Linked DNA regions of Homo sapiens. The protein of the gene in region 1 purifies or fractionates together with the protein of each later gene. This does not show direct contact. Each region holds a gene or a part of one and is shown in the gene's direction. Other genes may lie near its edges. The genes, in order: TAF12, MON2, ATXN7L2, CEP43, ZDBF2, ATL3 and NRBF2.

Region 1 (3,500 bases):
TTTTTTTGTTTGTTTCTTAAGACATGAGGTCTTCCTGTGTTCCCCAGGCTGGAGTGTAGTGGCACAATCATAGCTCACTGCAGTCTCTAACTCCTGGCCTCAAGTGATCCTCCTGCCTCAGCCTGCTGAGTAGCTGGGACTACAGGCACAGATCACTGTGCCTGGCTTTCTTTTGATTACTTTTTAATGGCATACGTATGTAACATGACATTTCCTTTATGAAGGCTGCCCTCAGGGAGCTTTTAGCCTATTAAGTCAGAAACAGGGAAGTATATAAATATGCACAATGATAAAGGGTACACAGGATACAGTAGAGGCCAAAGGAGGAAGTAAGTGGTTACCTTTACTGGGATGGGCTAGGAAAAGCATCAGAAAGAGGCACCATGAGCTAAGCAAGAAGGAAGAAGAGAGGAAGAGTGTGTACAGCACTTTGGGAGGCTGAGGTGGAAGAATCACTTGAGGCCAGGAGTTCAAGAGCAGGCTGCACAACATAGCGAGATCCTGTCTCTCAAAAAAAAAAAAAAAAAAAAAAATTAGCCAGGTATGATGGCACGTGCCTATGGTCCCAGCTAGCTGGGAAGCTTAGGTGGGAGAGCTTGGCAGTCAAGGCTACAGTAAGCCATGATCATGCCACTGCACTCCAGTGGGCAATAGAGCAAGACCCTGTCTCAAAAACAAAACAAAACAAAAAAACAAACTTGTCTAAAGGCAAGGGGCATGGTACAATTTGTGGTGGTCAGAGAATTGCAAATTTCTACATGTGAAGAGACACAGTGAGAAAAAGACATGAGGCTGAAATATACTGCCTGACAGCTGGATGCTGGCCTGTCTTCAAACTGCTCTTTCCACCTTTCCCTAAGTTACTTCTGTCTTGAGAGTGTAGTCTTACAGCAGCATAGTCAGGTAGGCCAGACTGTGAACTCATTGGAAAGTGGAAACTAAAACCAACAATTTGACAGCCTTTCTTCATTACAGGGTAATGATTTGTTTCATTTCCTTAATATCTGGTTGAAAAGTCTTCTTCCAATTAACTTTAGGTATTGACCAAGAAGAAATTACAGGACTTAGTAAGAGAAGTGGATCCTAATGAGCAGTTGGATGAAGATGTGGAGGAGGTAAGGTGGGGTTGGGTACCCCAGAAACTGGTCCCTGAGAACCGGTATAGCATAGTGGTTAAGAGCACAAACAGGCCAGATGCAGTGGCTCATGCCTTTTGAGAGACCAAAGCAGGAGGATTGCTGGAACCCAGAGGTTCAAGACCAGCCTAGGCCATATAATGAGACCTTGTCTCTGCAAAAAATTAAACAATTAGCTGAGTGCCAGGTGTGGTGGCTCACTCCTGTAATCCCAGCACTTTGGGAGGTCGAGGTGGGCGGATCACAAGGTCAGGAGATCAAGACCATCCTGGCTAACACAGTGAAACCCCGTCTCTACTAAAAATACAAAAAACAAAATTAGCCGGGCATGGTGGCGGGCGCCTGTAGTCCCAGCTACTCGGGAGGCTGAGGCAGGAGAATGAAGTGAACCTGGGAGGCGGAGTGCAGTGAGCCGAGACCATGCCACTGCACTCCAGCCTAGGCGACAGAGCAAGACTCCATCTCAAAAAAAAAAAAAGAAAAAAAATTAGCTGAGCGTGGTGGTGTGTACCTGTAGTTCCAGCTACTAGGGAGGTTGAAGTGTTCTTAAACCCAGAAGGCCGAGGTTGCAGTAAGCCAAGATTGTACCACTGCAATAAATAAATAAAATAAGAGCACAGACAAATCTGAATTTGCTTTATACCCAATAACTGCTGCTACTTTTGCCTGTTAAAAACGGCATAGTCTGTTGCTCACAGGCAATCACTTTCAACAATTTTAGCTGTTTCTGTAACATTCTTCTATATTTCTAAGTAATATACTTAAAAAGATACTCTTTGACCCATTAATTTTATAATATTCTTTTTTTTTTGAGACGGAGTTTCGCTGTTGATGCCCACGCTGGAGTGCAATGGCGCGATCTTGGCTCACCGCAACCTCCGCCTCCTGGGTTCAAGCGATTCTCCTGCCTCAGCCTCCTGAGTAGCTGGGATTATAGGCATGCACCACCACACCTGGCTAATTTTTGTATTTTTAGTAGAGATGGGGTTTCTCCATGTCAGTCAGGCTGGTCTCAAACTCCTGACCTTAGGTGATCCACCTGCCTTGGCCTCCCAAAGTTCTGGGATTACAGGTGTGAGTCACCGTGCCTGGCCAATTTTATAAGATTCTGTTGATTCCCTATTATGGTAGATGAGAATTTTTTACACTACTCAATGTGTGCCATATAACTTTTATTTATTTATTTATTTATTTTTTTGAGACAGTCTTGCTCTGTTGCCCAGGCTGGAGTATAGTGGCAGGATCTCAGCTTACCGCAACCTCTGCATCCCGGGGGTTCAAGTGATTCTCCTGCCTCAGCCTCCCAAGTAGCTGGGATTATAGGCATGTGCCACCACACCTGGCTAATTTTTGTATTTTTTAGTAGAGATGGGGTTTTGCCATGTTGGCCAGGCTGGTCTCGGACTCCTGACCTCAGGTGATTCACCCACCTCGGCCTCCCAAAGTGCTGGGATTACAGGCATGAGCTATCACGCCTGCTGGTCCATATAACTTTCCTTACTGTTTTTCTTTTTCTTTTCTTTTTTTTTTTTTTTTGAGACAGAATCTTGCTCAGCTGCCCAGGCTGGAGTGCAGTGGTGCGATATCGGCTCACTGCAAACTCCATCTCCCAGGTTCAAGTGATTCTTCCACCTCAGCCTCCCGAGTAGCTGGGATTACAGGTGCACACCACCATACCTGACTAATTTCGTATTTTTAGTAGTAACAAAGTTTTACCATGTTGGCCAGGCTGGTCTCAAACTTCTGACCTCAAGTGATCTGTCCACCTCAGCCTCCCACAGTGCTGGGATTATAGGTCTGAGCCACTATGCCCGACCCTGGCTATTCATTCTTAAAGAATCACTCACTGAAAAGCTGATTTGAAGTATAATTGATGGATTTGGCCCAGTAATATATGGGTAAATGTTTAACAACTAGCTCTTTGGAGAAAAATGCCCGATTTGCAGTGCTTTATTATTTCTGTGGTGTAACTATTTCTACCAACATGACATCACTAAATACAAACTTGGGAAAAGAGGTACACAGTTGGCTTTTATGAGCTGGTCTCGGTTCACTCTAGCAGACCACAAGACTTTACTTCAGAGTAATTTGTCCACAAGTCAACCTTCCTAATGGAAGATTCCCTAAATGTCAGTATCTGTAAGTCTTTTCTCTGGAATCATTCAATATCTCCGGAGAAAATTCCAGTCTCCTATCTTGAGGATTTATCCCTTAGCTTCTTTTTTTTTTTTTTTTTTTTTTTTTTTTTTTTTTGAGACGGAGTCTCGCTCTGTTGACCAGGCTGGAGTGCAGCGGCATGATCTTGGCTCACTGCAACCTCCACCTCCCGGGTTCAAGTGATTCTCCTGCATCAGCCTCCTGAGA
Region 2 (2,576 bases), on another chromosome or scaffold:
AACTGCTTCCTTCTATGATGTTTACTAGATGGAGAAAAATACTCCATACCTATATTGCAATTTTATTTTTATCTAGAAAAAGAAAATATTAGGCTTCAGACCCAACTGTGCAAATTTCATTTGCTTTCCATCTCTTACTACTACCTCTGTGTCATAATTTAACACGTAACATACAACTCCTGTCTCTTAAGGCAGCTACCATATGGTGTTTATGTCAGACTGGATATATTTATCTAATTTTGTGAAATTATTTTTTAGTTCCCAACACAATTCTTGAAAGTAATACCACTGTTGTTACTCTTTCTCCTTACAATTTTTATGTTGTTGAGATGTATCAGTTATGTATTATAATCATGAAATTGTATTGGCCTCAAACCCAAATTTTCTTTGTAGTCTAGGATAGATTTTTCATGAAAGCTATATAGTTATAACTGTGATTGTACAGATTGTTTATTTGTTTTACAGCTAACATTAAGCATGATTCCAGGTTTTTAATTATGTTCCAGCAACACTAGTGTTTCTTTATAACTTAAAATCATAACCACTTTGATAATTTACCTTTGGATCTGACCAGTGATTCATTTTTTTCTTGAATATACTTTGTGTTTGCTTTCTCATCCCCGTTAAGTCTGAAACATTATTGACACCCCACATCACTTACTCTGTTTAAAGACTTTACGAGTAGTGAGTCACATGTTTAGGATGATCACTTTGGGAAAAAAAAAATTATAGAGTAAAGGGGAAATGTTCTTGAGAGCTTTATTAAAACCATTAATATATAAAATGAAAAAATAATAAACAGAAGACACGAAGTGTCTCTCAATAGTTTAGAAAGAAAGATTTGGAACTTTAAGTAAAAATGCTAGGTCAAGTAAAAATCCTGATGTAGATTAGATTATCTTAATCTTATGAGCATTTTTTTTTAATTTGGTGAAGCTGTTTTGAAACTGCCTGTCCATATCAATGCCAGACTATCTCTCTACCTCTCAAAGAAAATAATTTGCATTAAAATTCCTTTTTTTGTTATGTAATGAAAGTATAAAACAAGAATTTGTACGTTACTCAGTGTGTACTGCAGTCAGATATAGTTAAAATAATTTTTCTGATGCGTAATTTTAACCACCATTTCTGGAGTACCTAGTATGTGCAGGCCAAGGCTTTGCCTATATTATTCCCTTTAATCCTCAAAGTAGCCTTGCAAAGAAGTTATTTTCATTTTACAGAAGAGTCAAGGATTAGGGGGTTGAAGTGAGCTGCCTAGAGTCACATACCTAAAGTCCAGGTGGATCACTATGTCTTGCTTTTTCAAAAGCAGTTCTTTCTACTACAGTACAATAGTTTCATGTTTTACAGTCCATTAAAATCCAAGACTTATAAAATAAACTAAAAATACTCTTGAGGCAATTACTATTTCTATGATGGGCACTGGGACAAATATACTTGAACATAACAAAGAACTAAAAATACTGTGAAAAAAAGATTTGTCTTAACGATGACCTTGAAAGTTGCATTGGGTTTTTATTATTGGTCCAGGTTTAAAACATTTTATCTATTTAAAACATATGTTGTGTGTTTTAAGAAGTTATGTTATAAATAACAGCATTGTGGTTAAGAGCCCAGAGTCTGGGGCCAGGCTTCTTAGATGCAAATCCCAACTCTGTTATTTTACTAAATGTGTGACCTTGGGCAAGTTAATTAACCTGTTTTGGTGTCCTCCTCTGTGAAATGGAGTTAATCGTGGTATTTAACAGAATTCAAAATGTAGTGTGTTCTAAAGCGCTGTGCCTGGAGCATCATCACCACTAGGTGGTTAGGGAAGTAAAACACATTTGGCACACATCATTCAAGAATGGCCAGAAAATCCATGTCTTCCCACAATAGGGACCAATTTTTTGCCTTTCACCAGACAACCACTGAATGTTAAGAATCTACTGTGTGCTAATAACTGTGTCCTTGCTGTATGACAGAAGCTATTTGGAGCGCTCTCAAGTGCTTATTACAGCTAGTCAAGGAAACCGCATATATAAAATAATACTGGATACAAGACTATACAATTAAATACTGGTGTATCACTAACAACTGTTTAGACCCTGTTTTTGCGTTAAGCATTGGGTTAGTCTCTGTCCTCATGGAGTTTTCAGTTTTATAGGGAATACAGACCTTTTAACAAGTATGTAAAGTACAGTAAAAGACAAGTACAGATTAAAATGAAATCATAAAATAGGAACCTTAGCCTAGTCTTCTGTGGTTCAGGTTAATAGTGCTGTTAGTAGTCAGAAGGAAGTTTTTTAAAGAAATGAAAAAGCTCAGTGGTTAAGATAGAAATTAAAGTTAGTCTTGATGGCTACCTAGATTTTGGATGAGTTCAAAGGATATACGGAGGGATTTCAGGCAAGATAATGTGAGCAAGGCATATCTGTGAAATAGAAAACAGTGCATTTTGGTGTATTGTGTGAAACAAGGTTGGTTGTGAAGGATTGGGTCCCTTCATAAAATTCCTTGAAAGCCAAGGAGAGTAGTTTAGATTTGAGATGGCAGGGTCTGGAGTGATTTAAGAATAAATTATAAAACCAAGG
Region 3 (3,165 bases), about 81 Mb from region 1:
GAAACTCAGATTCTCTCATGTGAGTCTATGGACATGGTTAGGTTGGGGAAGGAAGTGGTGATACCACTCACCTTGATTATTCTTTCCACCTCCTGGTGACAGAAAGAAGACATGGGCCCCTCAGCAAGCTTTATGGCCGGGCCCCACCCCCACCTCCAGCCCCTGCCAGCTCTCAGAAATGCCATGTAGTGAATGGGCAGGGCCCAGCTTGTAGGGCCCCAGGTTCCACGAAAACCTCCTCCAGGGAGAAGGGCCAGGGGTCCCGGAGCCGTGGCCACCAGCCTCCTGAGAAGACCCAGAAGGACAACCTCTGGTAAGGAGAGGCTGGAAACTTTCTAAGACTGGCCCTGACCCTGACCCATGGATGGGCTGACATCAATACAGACAGCCCTGGGTCAAGGCATACTCCTCACAGCAGGAGGCAGCCGTCCTGTCTGCAGCTTCCTTCCATATATTCCAGGGAAGATGGGGTCTCCTCTTCCCGTGTTTCACACCCCTGCTGGAGCCCACCCAAATTCCAGGGCTGGGAAAGAGATGGCTCTGGGCTAGAGTCCAGGCCCCAGGCCTCGCCTCCCCTCCCCTCCCTCAGCCAACCCCCTCTCTCTGTGTGTAGCCTTTTCGTGCCTGTGGTGAATCTGGAGAAGATGTCCAGTCTCCCGAAGCCTGATGGACATGGAATCAGGGTGGCCCCACCCTCTGCTTTTCTCAGCCAGCCAGGGGGCCTCACCAAGGACTCCCCTGGAAAACCTCCCATGGCTCCCCCTTCTAAAGAACCTCCTGGCAGAGAGAACATCGAGATCATCCCCAGTGAGGGGTCCAGTCACTGGGCTGAAGGCAGCCCTCCTGAAAAGGAGCCCAGTGGGACCAGGCTGCCCCCTAAAACCCACCGGAAGATGGCTCGTGAGTAGTTGTGGTCTTGGGGGTCCAGAATGTAGAGTGGGGACTCCTTTGGGCTGCTTTGTCCTTGGGCTGGATGAGGAGGAGGTCAGGTTTATGGGCCTGGCCATCACAGGTTGTAGGGTATAGGAGCCCCGTCACCTCTTGACCTGCTTGCTTCCTGGGAAGCTTCTCTCCATCCTGTGTCTCCTGATCAAGGCTGAGGGAGCCCATGCCCAGGAGGTGAAGTTCTTTCTCACTCTTTTCTCACCTAGATCCAGGGCGCCAGCCAGACACATCTCACAGCTGGCTTCTCTGGCCTCCCAGATGCCCATGGCTGCTTTTGTTTCTTGATGTGTGTTGCCCTGCTTTGGGCTTGAAGTCCCAAAAGGCGCACCTGAAATTGGGATAGGGATGGTTCTCACACCCAGCAAGGAGATGTTGATGCCCAGAAGTTTATCTGGAAGGTACAGCCCCAGGCTGAGGGCTGGAGTCTCTTCTGCCTTAGTACCAGTTCTCAGGCCCTTGGCAGGAAGCGGCCAAATCCTCCTGTAAACTCCTGGAAATGGTCTTGAGGTTCATTGGAAGTGCTTTCCCCACAGGGAAGGAGTGCGACCTCAACAGGCAGTGTGGGGTAATAAATCCAGAGACCAAAAAGATCTGTACCCGCCTGTTGACCTGCAAGGTAACCCCCTTCCCACTGCACGGTGAGGGAGGACAGCACAGGGCTTGCCCACTCCTTCCCTGGGCAAAGAGAGGAATGTCGATGTTACTGAAGGTCCAGCTTAAGGGAGGGCAGTTAGGCCCACCCAAGGGAAGGGGAGATGGGTATGCCCCTCCTGGGCAGAAGGTGGGAACAGTGGGAAGGAGGGAGTTTCCAGATTCCCCCATCCCAAAGGAGGGTTTTGGCCCCATGGGGGAATGAAACAAAGACACATGAACACAGCTGCAAATATGCCCACCTCTCTCCCTGCCCCCCAACTTGCCCGGGCCAAAGCACCCTGCCGTCCCTCACCCCTTCTCAGTTCATACCTACTCCCCAGCTCTCCACTCTGCTGTATTCTAGATCCACTCAGTACACCAGCGCCGGGAAGTCCAGGGCCGGGCCAAGGACTTTGACGTGCTGGTGGCAGAGCTGAAGGCCAACTCCCGCAAAGGGGAGTCTCCCAAGGAGAAGAGCCCAGGGCGCAAGGAGCAAGTTCTCGAGCGCCCCTCCCAGGAGCTCCCCTCCTCAGTCCAGGTTGTAGCAGCGGTGGCTGCTCCCAGCAGCACCTTCTCTGTTCGTGCCAAGCAGACCTACCCATACTGTGCACTGCCCAGGTACGTCTAGAATCCAACCCCTACCTCACCTGGGGGTACTTGGCCCCTAAGCCATCAGGGGCCCCTGGAAACAGGCTCAGGGAGTGTCCTGGAAGAGGCACTCCCTCAGCCCTGAGTGTGGGGGTATTCCTGGGGCTCCTGACAGTGGTGTGGAAGCAGGAGACTCCCCTGTTTCCAACCAGGCATACCACAGCACCCCAGCCTCTCGGCAGTGTGCCAGATCCAACACTCAGGATATGAACATTTTCCCAGCTGCCTCCAACAGACCGAAACTTGTCACTGGGGAGCTGAAAGGGTCACACTCCTGGGCAAGGCAGCCCTATGTGTATTCACTCACTGGCCCCTTCGCGTGCAGAGGCTATGCCGGACCCCAGGGAGAGCCTGACTTGCTGAAGGAGACACACATGCATCTCTGCCTGTCACACAAGGGGCAGACACGAAACACAGGCTCAGCTCACAGACAGGCTCACAGGAATATGTGATGCAAGAAGGGGGTTGAGCGAGTTGACTGGGCTGACCAGAGCTGGGTACAGTTTTAACTGTGAAGATTTTCTGGAGGAGGCGGATCTGCAGCAGATTATCCCCTGAGGAGGAAGGGGCTGGGAGGTGAAGGGGCTGGGGAGAGAATCCCTTGGGAGCAGTCTCTCTGTCTCTTACTCTGTGAGCTGTGTCGTTCCCTCCTGTCCTTCCCTTCCCTCTGTCCTCTTCTGATTGCCCTGCAGGGTGTCTGCCCTGGTGCCCTGCTCTTTGAGCTCGGCAGGTTCAAGGATGCCCCTACTCTGACCCCACAACAGTCACATTCCCCTGGCATCCCTTTTGGCCCTTCCAGGTCCCGGGCCTCCTCCGAGAGTGAATTGGATGATGAAGGCCCCTGTGGTGGTGATGGGGACCCAGGCCTGTTCCCCTTCCCCATGCCCCGGGGTGGGACCCAGGCCTCCAGCGAAGAGAGTGAGGAGGAGGGGACATCTG
Region 4 (3,500 bases), on another chromosome or scaffold:
TACATTTTTCAGTTTCTGTCATGCCAGTTATTCTTTGGCACTTTCTCATGAGTGTTTAGAAGGAGAGAATCTGTCGTGGCCACAGGCTGTGTCATTGTACATATGTTTAAATATCACATCAGGGTATTTATTTCCAAATGCATATTCTTTTAAAAAGACATAAATCCATTATTAAAACAGTGTAAAAATCAGAAATTACAACTGCTGTGAATTACATAATATTTTTCTATATTTGATAATACCAGGAAAATGTCAAGAAAGTTGTTAGGAAATTTTTGAAAGTTTCCATCCCTTTGAAAATATGTTGTCTAAAATTATAACTTGCTATTTATTTTTTCAGACATCTCTTTATAATCATTAATTTATATTAATAACATGGAATGTGTAGCTCTCTAGAAGGCAATAAAATTTGCACAGCATATATCTTGCCTACTGTCAACTAGTCAAGACCTCTACCTGGTGTAAAGATGTAAACGTATATCATAAGACATGCATAATGCATTCTGTCTGTACCCATATGAAAAGTGAAACCATCCTTCAGGAGCGTCTTGTTCGGTAATGTCTAACCCAGACTTTGGTCACCATGCTTCAGTAGTTACTACTCTTTAATTCTTTCTCAGCCATCCATCCCTTCCTAGATATAATTTGATCTGAAAAATATGAATCTAGTTCAATTCTTGAGGAAACTCATGCCTAGGAAATTAATTTACTTAAGATTACACGGGCCATGTATGGTGGCTCACGGCTCACGCCTGTAATCCCAGCACTTTGGGAGGCCGAGGCGGGTGGATCACTTGAGGTCAGAAGTTCGAGACCAGCGTGGCCAACATGTTGAAACCCTGTTTCTACTAAAAATACAAAAATTAGCCAAGCGTGGTGGCACGCGCCTGAAATCCCAGCTACTCAGGAGGCTGAGGCAGGAGAATCGCTTGAATCTGGGAGGCGGAGGTTGCAGTTAGCCCAGATTGCCCCACTGCACTCCAGCCTGAGTGACAGAGCGAGACTCTGTCTCAAAAAAAAAAAAAAAAAAAAAAAAGATTATACGACTGGGTGTAGTTTGTGCTTGTAATCCCATAAACCCAGCTACTTGGGAGACTGAGGCAAGGAGGACTGCTTGAGCCCAGGAGTTTTAAGACCAGCCTGGATGACATAGTGAGAGCCTGTTTCTTAAAAAAGAAAAAAAAAAAAAAGAAAAAAAAATGGAGTTAATAATTTTGGACTACATTCCAGATTCCTTGTTTCAGTTGAGTGCTTTTTCTATTATTCCACGGGTATTTTACACAATACTGCTCTCTTTAGTATGCAAGGCTGAATTTTGGGAAATTGCCATTTTTAACCCATAAAGCCCACAAATTCATTATAATTTAGCTTAATAGCATAAATATTGAGTTAACCTCTGGAAGCAGGCTTTGACTTTGATATTGACCTGACCACTTAACTCTCTGGAGACTTTGACAAGTGACATCAATGTCTGTCTCTGTGTTTCCTGATTTATATCCACAGATAGAAAGCCATCTCCAGATCCTAGGGCCATTTTCAAGATTCAGTGAGATAAGGTGAAGCATTTGAATGTTCTCCATAAATGTCAGCTGCTTTTATTATTACTAGCATTATTTTTTGTTTTCATTATTATTATTAACATAGACCCGTCTAAGGGCAGAAAGAAATCTGACCAAGAATGGAGTGAAAGTCGGCTGTGAAGGTTAGGACTCCCTGAAAACAAAAAAGAAAAGTGGTAACATCACTCTGTATCCAAGGGCATGGATAAGGATGATTCAGAATTTTTTTATAACATTGATGTTAATATACATAGAGAAATACACACACACACACACGTATATATGTCCATGGACATCAAAATGAGGTATAGGTTAGGAAGTTACCCTGGAAGTTAGAATTGAGATAATTACTTTGATTAGCAAAGGTTTATGTTAGAAATATGAGTGGTTGAAGGCAGCGCCTTTCACCTTGATGCCTGTTGTGTTTAGCACTGGATAGAAAATTGCTATTTTTACTGATGACTACTTTAATGCTTGGTTCATTCATATGAAATAATCTTTCTTTTCTCCTTTAATAATAATGATCTCTCCTGATTTCAAGTTGAAAATGTATTAATTTAAGATAACTTATGAAGCAATGACATATGGAAGAGGAGATGGGAAATTGTTTCTCAATGGGAAAGTGTTTATAAATGGGATAGGTATACTAAAGGTATTTCCATTTAGGGAAAGAGGAAAGGAATGGTATTAATATATTTCTCTAATATTTTTCCCCCTTTGAAAGTTTGCCATGTTAGGAATCCTGGGGATGGAGTGATGAATTGTGGCATTGCTCTGCAGTTCACGCTGCTGAGAGCTGCCCCAACACACACACACACACACACACACACACACACACACAAAGGTTGCACACACACAGGTTTGATTATGCTCATGAGACTTCTTTTATTATTGAAAATATCTTAAAGTTTTATCTCACCAAGGAGGCCTTTTCTCTTTCCCTCTCTTTCTAGAAGGCCAATGATGAGGCCAATCAGAGTGATACAAGTGTCTCCTTGTCAGAACCCAAGAGCAAAAGCAGCCTTCACTTACTGTCCCATGAAACAAAAATTGGATCTTTTCTAAGCAACAGAACTTTAGATGGCAAAGACAAAGCTGGCCTTTGTCCAGATGAAGATGATATGGAAGGAGATTCTTTCTTTGATGATCCCATTCCTAAGCCAGAGAAAACTTACGGTTTGTGAGTAAATGGTTTTTGAGCTATGAGACTAGGGGTTTAAAAATAAGATAAATGTTTTCATTTTATAGTTAAAAAATAATGAACTATGGAAGGTTTATAATTATTGGATCCATAAATCTGACTATGCGTTGTTAATGCCTTTCATGTTGTAAAACAATCCCAGATTTTAGAAAAACCTAGACATGATTTATTCCAACAAGTAAGTGTAGATTGAGTGTCAGCCACTTGCCAGGGCTGTTCCAGGGTGGGGTGCAGCAATGATAGAAGAGGGAAGACTCCTGCCCTCAGGAAGCTCATGCTCTGGTGACAGAGTCAGGCAATGAGGGTTATGCTGCAGTGTGTGGGGTGATGAGAGCAGAGCAGTGATGGGAGCCCGAGTGTGTGGTCAGGGCAGGTGCATGTCAGCTGTCCAAATTGGAGGGGGCCTCACTTGGAGGTGCCCAGTGAGCAAAGAGCTAGAGGAGGTAAGGGAGTTGCCGTGGGTTGATGGAGCTTTGGGGAGAGGAAACAGACAGCAGGGAGGCGAGTTGGGGGTAGCAGAGAGAGCAAGATGGGGATCGGATGAGGTGGACTCAGAGATGAGGAGCTGGACGGCTTTTCTTTGAGACTGGAAGCCCTGAGGATCTTGATCTGGCGTACATTACAGAAGGATCCTGAGGTTGCTGGGGAAGGTTGGTCTTAGAGTTTCCAGTTAGGAGGCCGTTAATGATGGAAAAGGATTTGCCAGTAAGTGCTAGAGAAAAGTAATATACAGAGTGGCA
Region 5 (3,500 bases), on another chromosome or scaffold:
AGTTAGATTGATTGGTTTTCAGATGTTAAACTTATTTTGCATCTGTGGGATAAATCCCACTTGGTCATGGTGTATAATCCTTTTTATATGTTGCTGGATTTGGTTTGCTATTAATAATATTTTGTTGACAATGTTTGCAGCCTTGTATTTCAAGGCTTTGGAGAACTGTAAAAGCAGTGAAGTAATATGGGGCCCATATCTAGTGAAGTATTTAACAGAAACAATGGAAGCCAAAAGAAAGAAAACAACTGCCACCTAGAATTCTCTACTCAATACGTATATCTTTTAATAAGGAAGGTGAAATAAAACTATTTTCAGGAAATAAAAATTAAGGGAATTTGTCACCAGCAGACTCTCACTAAAGGAAAAACTAAAAAGGAGTTCTTCAGGCAGAAGGAAAATGATTCCCGATGGAAGCTCAGAGATACAGGAAGTAATGAAGAACAGTGGAAAGGTAAATATGTAGGCAATCAATCTAAGTGAATACTGTCTTGTGGGATGAACAACAATGGCATATAAATTGGGAGGGGAGTAAATGATGTTAATTTCTAAGGACTTTGCATTGTTTATAAAGAGAATAAAAGTAACAAGTAATTTTAGGCGTTGACAGTTCAGGGTTGCTCATTGTAATCTCTTACCAAAATAGACTATGAAAAGTCTGTAACTAACTACAGAGTTAACAGAAAAGGAAAAATTGAAATGATGAAACGTAGTCCACAAGAAGACAAGAAAGGAGAGGAAAAGGGATAGTTGTATAGGCAAGAGTAACAGATTGAAAAAGTTAAATACAACTCTATCAGTAATACATTAAGTGAAAATAGGTTTGATGCTTGAATTACAACTGTATTCAATATTTTGTCAGAGGTCCTAGTCAAAGAAATAAGGAAAGAAAAATAAAAATGATAAAGATTGGATAAGAAGAAATAAAACTATTATTTATACACAACATGATGGTGGACATAAAAACTAAAAAGATATCTAGATAAACCATTAGAATCAATAAGTGATTTTAAAAGGTTGTTACACTAATGTAAAAAGAAAGTGTATTTTTATATACAGATACCATGCAGAAAATGAGATAAAAAATCATTTACAATAGCATCAAAGAACATCAAAATCTAGGGAATAAACATAAGAAAATGTAAGATCTTTAAACTAGAAACTATAAACCTTGAAAGAAATTTTCATGTTCATGGATTGAAGAATCAATATTGTAAACATGTCAGTTCTGCCTAGATTGTTATATTTATCCAATGTAATTTCAATCAAAATCTCAGAGAAGTATTTTTTTTTAATGAAAAGCCAATTCCAAAAATAAATGTGGGAAAGTAAAAGGCTCAGAAGAACTAGGATAATCTTAAGAACAAAGTGAATAGATGTCCTCTATCAGATACTAAAACTTATGAAACTTTAGTCTTTAGTCTTTAAAATAGTGCAGTTTTGCTGCAGAGTTAGAAAGACCATGGAAAAAAACCAGGAATTCCAGAAACAGACACATTTATGGATGTCTGATTTGTGACAAAGGTGCTGCACAGCAGTGAGGACAGGACTTTCTTCAATAAATGATACTGGGTCAATTGAATATTCATATGGAGAGGAAAATGAAACTTTATTGCCGAATCACCCTGCATATAAAAATCAGTTAGAAGTAGACTATGATTTGGCTACATGTTGTAGCCAAAATAGTAAAGCTTCTAGAAACAGGAGAAAATCTCTATGACTTTGATGGTAAAGAGAGATTTCTGGCCACAAAAAGCACTGACAAAGAAAAAAAGATAAAACCGGACTGCAATAAAGTTAAACAATGGAAGATGATTAAGAAAGTGAAAAGAAGCTGCAGAGAGGAAGATGGTACTTGAAACACATATAATTGAGCAAAGAACTGGTGTCCTGAATAGGGAATTTCTACAAGTCCATAAGGAAGAGACAGAACATCCATTTGAAAAACAGAGAGACTTGAACAGACCCAATGTAAAAGAGGATATCCAGATGGCTAGTAAATATGAAAAGCTATTGCAAAAATTACAGATTAAGGCCACAGTGATATAACAATAAACATCCTTACAATAGCTAAAATTAAAGAGACTGACAATAGCAAGTGTTGATAAGGAGATAGGAATACTGCTGGTAGGGAATATAAATTTGTACAGCCACTTTGGAAGACTGGTCGGTAGGGAGTACTAAAGCTGAACATATGCAAATTTTATGACCCCGAAGTTTCACTCCTAATAATGCACTCAACAAAAATGCATGCACATTGGCACCAAAAGACACATACAAGAAGGTTCTTCATAGTATTATTAGTAATAGCCAAAAGCTAGAAACAACACAAATGTCCATCAAGAGTAGAATGAATAAATAAGATATGGCATATTCATACAATGAATATGCAGAAAAGAAAATGAACAGATTCAGCCAATATGTATGAATATCACATATATAATATTGAGTAAAATAAGCTGAATGCAATAGCATACATATTATATGACTCCATTTATATACATTTCAGAAAATTTCAAAACTATAGTATTAAAAGTTAGGTAATAGTTACTTTTGGGGAAAAGGGAAGGGATTGGGATGGGGCATTACAGGGATTTCTGGATGCTTGTCAACTTTTTATGGATAGATGGTAAGGATGTGTCTACTTTGTGATAGTTGATTGAGCTGTATGCATATGATTTGTGTACTTTATGTTATACATCAATTCAAAAAATCTAAAGGAACGGATACCTTATAGGATGTAAATGAAGTTTTCTATTCACATTGCTTTTTTCTTTTTGCCTTGGCAGAGAGAGGACAAGGTTGGATTTTAGTATTTATTTTTGTAATTTCAGCTTTTATTTTAGATTCGGGGGGACACATGTCCAGGCTTGTTACGTGGGTATGTTGTGTGATGCTGAGGTTTGGGGTACAAATGATCCCATCACCCAGCTAGTGAGCATAGTACCTGATAGGTAGTTTTTCGAGCCCTTTCCCCCTGCCCTGTCTCTCCTGACCCAGTGTCTCCCAGTGCCTTTTATTCCCATCTTTATGTCCACATGTACCTAATGTTTAGCTCCCACTTAAAAGTGAGAATATGTGGTATTTGGTTTTCTGTTCCTGTGTAAATTTGCTTAGGATGATGGCCTCCAGCTGTATCCATGTTGCTGCAAATGACATGATCTCATTTTTTATGGCTGTGTAGTATTCCATGATGTATATGTACCACATATTCTTTATTCAGTAACGTTGAATTTTAACTGAATATTTATTTGTTTCCTTGTGCATTTGTCCCCTTTAATCACCAGGCAGTCTAACTCTGGTGATGGGTCCTGGACAGTGGAGAGTTTCGTAGCAGGATTTTGAAAGCATCATAATTTAGATTGTTCCTGGGGCTAGGAGCACTAGCATGGACCTCTGAAGTCAACATGGAAGAAAATAATTCCAAGAGTTGTAACACAGTGGTCAGGAGCTAGCAACCTGATTTAAGTTCTTTAACACCTTTACCGTGATATTTTAAA
Region 6 (3,500 bases), on another chromosome or scaffold:
TCAAAAAAAAAAAAAAAAAGCCAATGGCATTTTTAGTTTCATATTGTGTTTTCCACTGGTATATACCTGTTGATTTGTTTGTGTCTTTTATGAACTGTTATTTTCTGAAATTTTTTTTCAATAAAAGGAAGGAAGATGTGAAAACAACTTTTTATCAAAGTGAATGATTTAAAATTAATACATATTGATTGTTTTTAAGATTCTTAAATAAAATGCATGAATATAGTTTAAAAGGTCAGGTACTACTGTAAGGCTTCTAACAGAAAGCAGCTGTCATGTGTGTTATTCTCCTCTCTACCCAGTTTTCACTTCCCAGAGGCTGATGCTCTTATGTGTTACCACTTCTGTTCTTTACTTCCTTACTCCTGTATGGGTGGCACAGACCTGGCTGTTGTTCTGGGAGTTGAGCAGGGAAATGGCATTGGGGATCTCACTGTTCAGAAGGTGGGCATTCACTATCCCCTAGCTATCAGTAGGGCTTCTTAGCCCCAGTCTCATCTATGCCTTGTAAGCTATGGGCATAGAGCCTCTCCACAGATTTCTTTGTAAGGATCGGGAGGGGTAAGTCATGTGTTTCTTATACAGACTTTCATCCATTACTTCTGTTTTTAGCCCAATCCTATAAGCATGCCTTCACACCTGTTTGTCCTTTTTTTTTTTTTTTTTTTGAGATGTAGTCTCACTCTGTTGCCCAGGCTGGAGTGCAGTGGCACCATCTTGGTCACTACAGTCTCCGCCTCCCAGGTTCAAGCAATTCTCCTGCCTCAGCCTCCTCATTAGCTGGGAGTACAGGTGCACACCACCATGCCTGGATAATTTTTGTATTTTTAGTAGAGACAGGGTTTCACAATGTTGGCCAGGCTGGTCTGGAACTCCTGACCTCGTGATCCGCCTGTCTCAGCCTCCCAAAGTGCTGGGATTACAGGGGTGAGCCACCACACCTGGCCACCTTTGATATTTTGAAGTGCTGGAGTGTTGGTACTGAATTCTTTTAGCTTTCATACATCTGAAAAATCTTTATTTTGCCTTTGTTTTGGAAAATATTTACTCTTAGTGTAGAGTTCTAGGCCAACGTATTTTTCTCAGTACTTCAAAGGTGTTGCCCCTTTGCCTTTTTGCTGACATTGTTTCTTTTTTTTTTTTTTGAGAGGGAGTCTCTCTGTTGCTCAGGCTGGAGTGCAGTGGTGCGATCTCGGCTCACTTCAACCTCTGCCTCCCGGGTTCAAGCAATTCTCCTGTCTCAGCCTTCTGAGTAGCTGGGACTACAGGCGCGCACCACCACGCCTGGCTAATTTTTGTATTTTTAGTAGAGACGGGGTTTCGCCATATTGGTCAGGCTGGTCTTGCACTCCTGACCTCAGGTTATTCACCTGCCTCTGTTTCCCAAAGTGCTGGGATTACAAGCATGAGCCACTGTGCCCAGTCTGCTGACATTGTTTCTGACAAGAAATACACTGTTATTCTTATTTTTGTTCTTTTGTACCTAATCTGTCTTTTTTGTCTGGTTGCTTTTTTCTTTAAATTAAAAAAAATTTTATTTTCGTGGGTACATAGGTATATATATTTATAGGGTATGTCTGGTTGCTTTTAAGATTTTATCACTGTTTTTGAGCAAATTATTATGTGTTTTGATGTAGTTCTTTTTTTTTTTTTGAGACGGAGTCTCACTGTGTCGCCCAGGCTGGAGTGCAGTGGCGTGATCTCGGCTCACTGCAAGCTCCGCCTCCCGGGTTCACGCCATTCTCCTGCCTCAGCCTCCCAAGGAGCTGGGACTACAGGCGCCTACCACCACGCCCGGCTAAGTTTTTGTATTTTTAGTAGAGACGGGGTTTCACTGTGTTAGCCAGGATGGTCTCGATCTCCTGACCTCGTGATCTGCCCGCCTTGGCCTCCCAAAGTGCTGGGATTATAGGCGTGAGCCACTGCGCCAGGCTGATGTAGTTCATGTTATTTGTATGTGGGTTTTGTTGAGCTTCTTGAATCTGCAGATTTATAATGTTTATCAAATTTGGACATTTTAAGGTTATTATTTCTTCAAGTTTTTTTGGTCTGTTACTCCCTTTGGAGACTCCTATTACATGTGCCTCTTGCTGCTTGAAGTTGTTCCACAAGATGTTCATTTAAAATTCTTTGGCCGGCGCGGTGGCGCACGTCTGTAATCTCACACTTTGGGAGGCCGAGGTGGGTGGATCACCTGAAGTCAGGAGTTTGAGACTAGCCTGACCAACATGGTGAAAACCCATCTCTACTAAATACAAAAAATTAGCTGGGTGTGATGGGTCATGCCTGTAATCCCAGCTACTTGGGAGGCTGAGGTGGGAGAATCGCTGGAACCCGGGAGGTGGAGGTTGCAGTGAGCCGAGATCGCACCATTGCACTTCCGCCTGGGCAACAAGAGCTAAACTCCATCTAAAAAAAAAAAAAAAGGCCAGATGCGGTGGCTCACGCCTGTATTCCCAGCACTTTGGGAGGCTGGGGTGGGCGGATCACCTGAGGTCAGGAGTTCGAGACCAGCCTGGCCAACATGGTGATGCCCTGTTGCTACTAAAAATACAAACATTAGCTGGGCGTGGTGGCGCCCACCTGTAATCTCAGCTACTTGGGAGGCAGAGGCAGGAGAATTGCTGGAACCTGGGCGGCGGAGATTGCAGTGGGATTAGGAAGAGTACTCAGTCTTGCCTCAGTAATGAGGAATAACAACACTCTGGTTCCATTTAACAAATCTAAACAGCAAGAACAGAAAAAACCAGAGTTTCCAAATTACTTAACTACATCTCAGAATAAAGCTAGATATTTTATAGGAATGCAAAAATAACCAGCACCCAACAAGGGAAAATCCACAAGTCTACATCCTATCAAAAATTTGCAGACATAAAAGAAGCAGAAAAATATAACCCAAATGAGGAGAAAAATCAATCAAAACTGTCTCAGAACTAACACAGATATTAAAATTAACAGAAAACAACTTTTTTTTTTTTTTTTAGACAGTCTTGCTCAACTAAAAATACAAAAATTAGCCGGGTATGGTGGTGTGCACCTGTAATCCCAGCTACTCAGGAGGCTGAGGCAGGAGAATCGCTTGAACCTGGGAGGTGGAGGTTGTGGTGAGCCGAGGTTGCGCCATTGCACTCCAGCCTGGGTGACGAGCAAAACTCTGTCTCAAAAAAAAAAAAAAAATAGGCCAGACATGGTGGCTTAGGCCTGTAATCCCAGCACTTTGGGAGGCCGAGGTGGGTGGATCATCTGAGGTCAGGAGTTCAAGACGAGTCTGACCAACGTGGTGAAACCCTGTCTCTACTAAAAATACAAAAATTAGCCGGGCATGGTGGCTCATGCCTGTAATCCCAGCTACTCGGGAGGCTGAGGCAGGAGAATCGCTTGGACCTGGGAGGTGGAGGTTGCAGTGAGCCAAGATCGTGCCATTGTACTCCAACCTGGGCAACAGAGTGAAACTCCGTAATCCCAGCACTGTGGGAGGCTGAGGCGGGCGGATCATGAGG
Region 7 (3,500 bases), on another chromosome or scaffold:
AGACGACAAGGTAATACAACAATGTGGGCCTGGTATGGTAGCTCACACCTGTAATCCTAGCACTTTGAGAGGCCGAGGCAGGTGGACTGCTTGAGCCCGGGAGTTCAAGACCAGCCTAGGCAACATAGTGAAAACCGGTCTCTACCAAAAGAAAAAAAAAAATAGCTGAGCATGGTGGCACATGTCTGTGGTTCCAGCTACTTGAGAGGCTGAGATAGGAGGATCACTTGAGCCCAGGAGGTTGTGGCTGCAGTGAGCCGTTATCATGCCACTGCATTCCAGCCTCTGGGTGACAGAATGAGACCCCATCTCAAAAAAAACAGCAAGGAAATCATAAGGAAGAGAAAATATAGTTCTATACTATAGTTATCAATACCATAAGTTTATGTCAGCTGTTTACAAAACGAATCATCTGTCAGAAATGATGGGCAACCACAGCTGTAGACCTCAATCTAACGTAACCCATCAAGCAATTAAAAAAGAATGTGGGAAGTCCCACAGAATCATATGGATTGCCTAGGAAGTACACAGAGGTGGGACTGCTTTATTGTGAATTTCTTTGAATTACCAGAGAAACATGTTTATGGACTTACTACCCTTTTCTTTTTGAGACAGTATCTTCCTCTGTCCCACAGACTAGAGTGCAGTGGCGTAATCACGGCTCACCGTAGCCTCAACCTCCTGAGCTTCTGATCCTCCTACCAGTCCCTCCTGTAGCTGGGACTACAGGTGTGCACCACTACACCCAGCTAATTTTTCTATTTTTTGTAGAGATGGGGTCTCACTATGTTGCCTATGCTGGTCTCAAGCAGCCCTCCCACCTCGGCCTCACAGAGCGCTGGGATTATAGGCATGAACCTCCGTGCCCAGCCTATTACTTTTTTTTTTTTTGAGATGGAGTCTCACTCTGTCACCCAGGCTGGAGTGCAGTGGCGCAATCTCGGCTCACCACAACCTCTGCCTCCCAGGTTCAAGCGATTCTCCTGCCTCAGCCTCCCGAGTAGCTGGGACTACAGGTGGGCGCCACCATGTCTGGCTAATTTTTGTATTTTTTGTAGACATGAAGTTTCACTATGTTGGCCAGGCTGGTCTCAAACTCCTGACCTCGTGATCTGCCTGCCTCGGCCTCCCAAAGTGCTGGGATTATAGACGTGAGCCTCCGCTCCTGGCCTCAGCCTAGTGCTTTTAATGGCTGTGATTCTACCAAGAACAGTATTTAAAGAGAGACTAGTTTTAATATGTGTAAACTGTAAAAGTTGTTTTAAAAATGAGAAGCACCACCAAGATAGGTTTTCTGTAAAATCTTCAGTTTATAAAAAATGCAATTTAGCTGGGCATGGTGGCTCATGCCTATAATTCCAGCACTTTGGGTGAGTGAGGGAGGAAGATTGCTTGAGCCCAGGAGTTTGAGACCAGCCTGGGCAAGATATCAAGACCCCACCTCTACAAAAAATAAAAGTTAGCTGGATGTGGTGCCGTGTGACTGTATTTCCAGCTACTCAGGAGGCTGAGGTGGCAGGATTGCTGGAGCCCAGGATATTGAGGCTGCAGTGAGCTATGATTGCACCACTCCACTCCAGCCTGGGCAACAGAGCAAAACCCTGTCTCAAAAGTAATTAAGATGAAAATTTTTTTAAAATGCAATTCAGTCTAGACCCAACTATATTGTCAACTTCTTGATGGCAGGTACTTCCATCACTTCTATTGTCTTTTGTAGTACTTAACGAGGGCTATATCGAGTATGTACCAGTACCAGGCACCATTCTAAGCACTGTGATGTTTCAACTAGTTTAATTTTCACAAACTCTTTTGTTTTTGGTGCCATCAAATTTACATAAGCAGACAATAACTTTCATTTTAGAGATGAGAAAACTGAGGCAGATAATTGGGAAAGCCGGGCTTATGTGTCTCATATGTGGTCAAACTGAGATTTGAACGTTGGCAGTCGAGCTCTATAACGAGTTTGCTGTGTGTCTGATAAGAACATAGTAGGAAATGTACTTAAAATACGAAATTTGATTGCTCTGGTGCCAAATAACCTAGAGGAGATGGTGTGTTTTTGTTGAGCTCAGTAATAATCTGAAACTATAATGAGATTTAACTCCTAAATTGGCAGACTGGTTAGAGATTGGACTCTACATGGGGATGTTTTAAGGGAGCTGGGAGAGCCATGAGGACCTGCTCTCACTGTTTGAGAACTTTTTATTTTTTTGGTGTTCAATTAAGAATTTATTCCGTCATCACAGAGTTTGAAGTTTAATTATGGAGCTACATAAATATCCATACTAGAAGAAAGTGATTGAAATCATCAGCGACACACACAGATAGAAAAAAGGTGTTAGAATGAAGTAACCTGAAATAGCATCTCATCCCTGCTTCTTAGAGTGTATCCATAAGCCAGCAACTTTGGCTTTACCTGGGTGGAATCTCAAGCCGTACTCCAAACCTCCTGAATCAGAACCTTTGTTTTTTTTGTTTTTTTTGTTTTTTTTTGAGATGGAGTTTCACTCTTGTTGCCCAGGCTGGAGTGCAATGGCACGATCTCAGCTCACTGCAACCTCTGCCGCCCTGGTCCAAGCAATTCTCCTGCCTCGTCTTCTCAAAGTGCTGGGCTTACAGGTGTGAGCCACCATGCCCGGCCTTTTAGAATCTGTATTTTAACCAGGTGATTTGTATTTTCATTAAAACCTAGAGCCTTATTGCTTATTGATTTAATACCACTTGCTTTAATAGTATCAAAACATGTTCATTAGAGAAATTAGGTTAATCATAACTGCTTGTGCATACTAGCTTTCTTCATCATGTACATTCTTTTCCCAAAATACCTGTATAATTTGTGGGTACTAGAAAATGCTCATGTGTTCAGAATGTATTTTTTGCTCAGTCCAAGTCTCCAGGTTAAAATTCATCCATTATTTTAAGCCCCCAGTCATTTCTTTTCTTTCTTTCTTTCTTTTTTTTTTTTTTTTTTTTGAGGCTGTCTTGCTCTCTTGCCCAGGCTAGAGTGCAGTAGCACGATCTCAGCTCACTGCAACCTCCGCCTTCCAGGTTCAAGCAATTCTTGTACCTCAGCCACCTGAGTAGCTGGGATTACAGGCATGTGCCACCATGCCTGGCTAATTTTTGTACTTTTAGTTGAGATGGTGTTTCACCATATTGGCCAGGCTGGTCTTAAACTCCTGGCCTTGAGTGATCTGCCTGCCTCAGCCTCCCAAAGTGCTGGGATTACAGGCATGAGCCACTGCGCCCAGCCTACCCAGTCATTTCTTGTGACCTATTGTTGTTCCCAGGCATATGTTAAGACTTAGAGGAAAGTTTGATTACTATTTAAAAAATAAAAAGTATCTGAAATCCTGTAATTGAAAGGCACGAATCTTGTCTTTAAGATTGTTGCTTCTTTCCTACAAAAATAGAAGTGGGGAAAAGGCAAACAGCAAGGCATTGCTGGAAGTGCTGTTTTCTACTTTTGTCTTCACCTGTGTTTTATACTGAGTATGATT

What was found.
Region 2: the proteins of TAF12 (region 1) and MON2 purify together in Homo sapiens (affinity purification with mass spectrometry; one large-scale study listed by BioGRID and IntAct). This does not show direct contact.
Region 3: the proteins of TAF12 (region 1) and ATXN7L2 purify together in Homo sapiens (affinity purification with mass spectrometry; one large-scale study listed by BioGRID and IntAct). This does not show direct contact.
Region 4: the proteins of TAF12 (region 1) and CEP43 purify together in Homo sapiens (co-immunoprecipitation; one large-scale study listed by IntAct). This does not show direct contact.
Region 5: the proteins of TAF12 (region 1) and ZDBF2 purify together in Homo sapiens (affinity purification with mass spectrometry; one large-scale study listed by BioGRID and IntAct). This does not show direct contact.
Region 6: the proteins of TAF12 (region 1) and ATL3 purify together in Homo sapiens (affinity purification with mass spectrometry, with the first as the bait; one large-scale study listed by BioGRID). This does not show direct contact.
Region 7: the proteins of TAF12 (region 1) and NRBF2 purify together in Homo sapiens (affinity purification with mass spectrometry; one large-scale study listed by BioGRID and IntAct). This does not show direct contact.

What each region holds. Positions count from the first base shown.
Region 1 is NC_000001.11:28,615,568-28,619,067, reverse strand, and holds part of TAF12 (transcription initiation factor TFIID subunit 12), read left to right. Parts: intron 1-1,037; coding exon 1,038-1,115; intron 1,116-3,500. UniProt on the Homo sapiens protein: The TFIID basal transcription factor complex plays a major role in the initiation of RNA polymerase II (Pol II)-dependent transcription.
Region 2 is NC_000012.12:62,598,401-62,600,976, forward strand, and holds the end of MON2 (protein MON2 homolog), read left to right. Parts: 3' UTR 1-2,076; downstream 2,077-2,576. UniProt on the Homo sapiens protein: Plays a role in regulating membrane trafficking of cargo proteins. Together with ATP9A and DOP1B, regulates SNX3 retromer-mediated endosomal sorting of WLS away from lysosomal degradation.
Region 3 is NC_000001.11:109,486,905-109,490,069, forward strand, and holds part of ATXN7L2 (ataxin-7-like protein 2), read left to right. Parts: intron 1-102; coding exon 103-313; intron 314-613; coding exon 614-900; intron 901-1,478; coding exon 1,479-1,561; intron 1,562-1,942; coding exon 1,943-2,196; intron 2,197-2,378; coding exon of another isoform or gene 2,379-2,436; exon of another isoform or gene 2,437-3,025; coding exon 3,026-3,165.
Region 4 is NC_000006.12:167,019,897-167,023,396, forward strand, and holds part of CEP43 (centrosomal protein 43), read left to right. Parts: intron 1-2,512; coding exon 2,513-2,739; intron 2,740-3,500. UniProt on the Homo sapiens protein: Required for anchoring microtubules to the centrosomes. Required for ciliation.
Region 5 is NC_000002.12:206,291,663-206,295,162, forward strand, and holds part of ZDBF2 (DBF4-type zinc finger-containing protein 2), read left to right. Parts: intron 1-348; exon of another isoform or gene 349-400; coding exon of another isoform or gene 401-454; intron 455-3,500.
Region 6 is NC_000011.10:63,654,377-63,657,876, reverse strand, and holds part of ATL3 (atlastin-3), read left to right. Parts: intron 1-3,500. UniProt on the Homo sapiens protein: Atlastin-3 (ATL3) is a membrane-anchored GTPase that mediates the GTP-dependent fusion of endoplasmic reticulum (ER) membranes, maintaining the continuous ER network. It facilitates the formation of three-way junctions where ER tubules intersect.
Region 7 is NC_000010.11:63,139,828-63,143,327, forward strand, and holds part of NRBF2 (nuclear receptor-binding factor 2), read left to right. Parts: intron 1-3,500. UniProt on the Homo sapiens protein: May modulate transcriptional activation by target nuclear receptors. Can act as transcriptional activator (in vitro). Involved in starvation-induced autophagy probably by its association with PI3K complex I (PI3KC3-C1).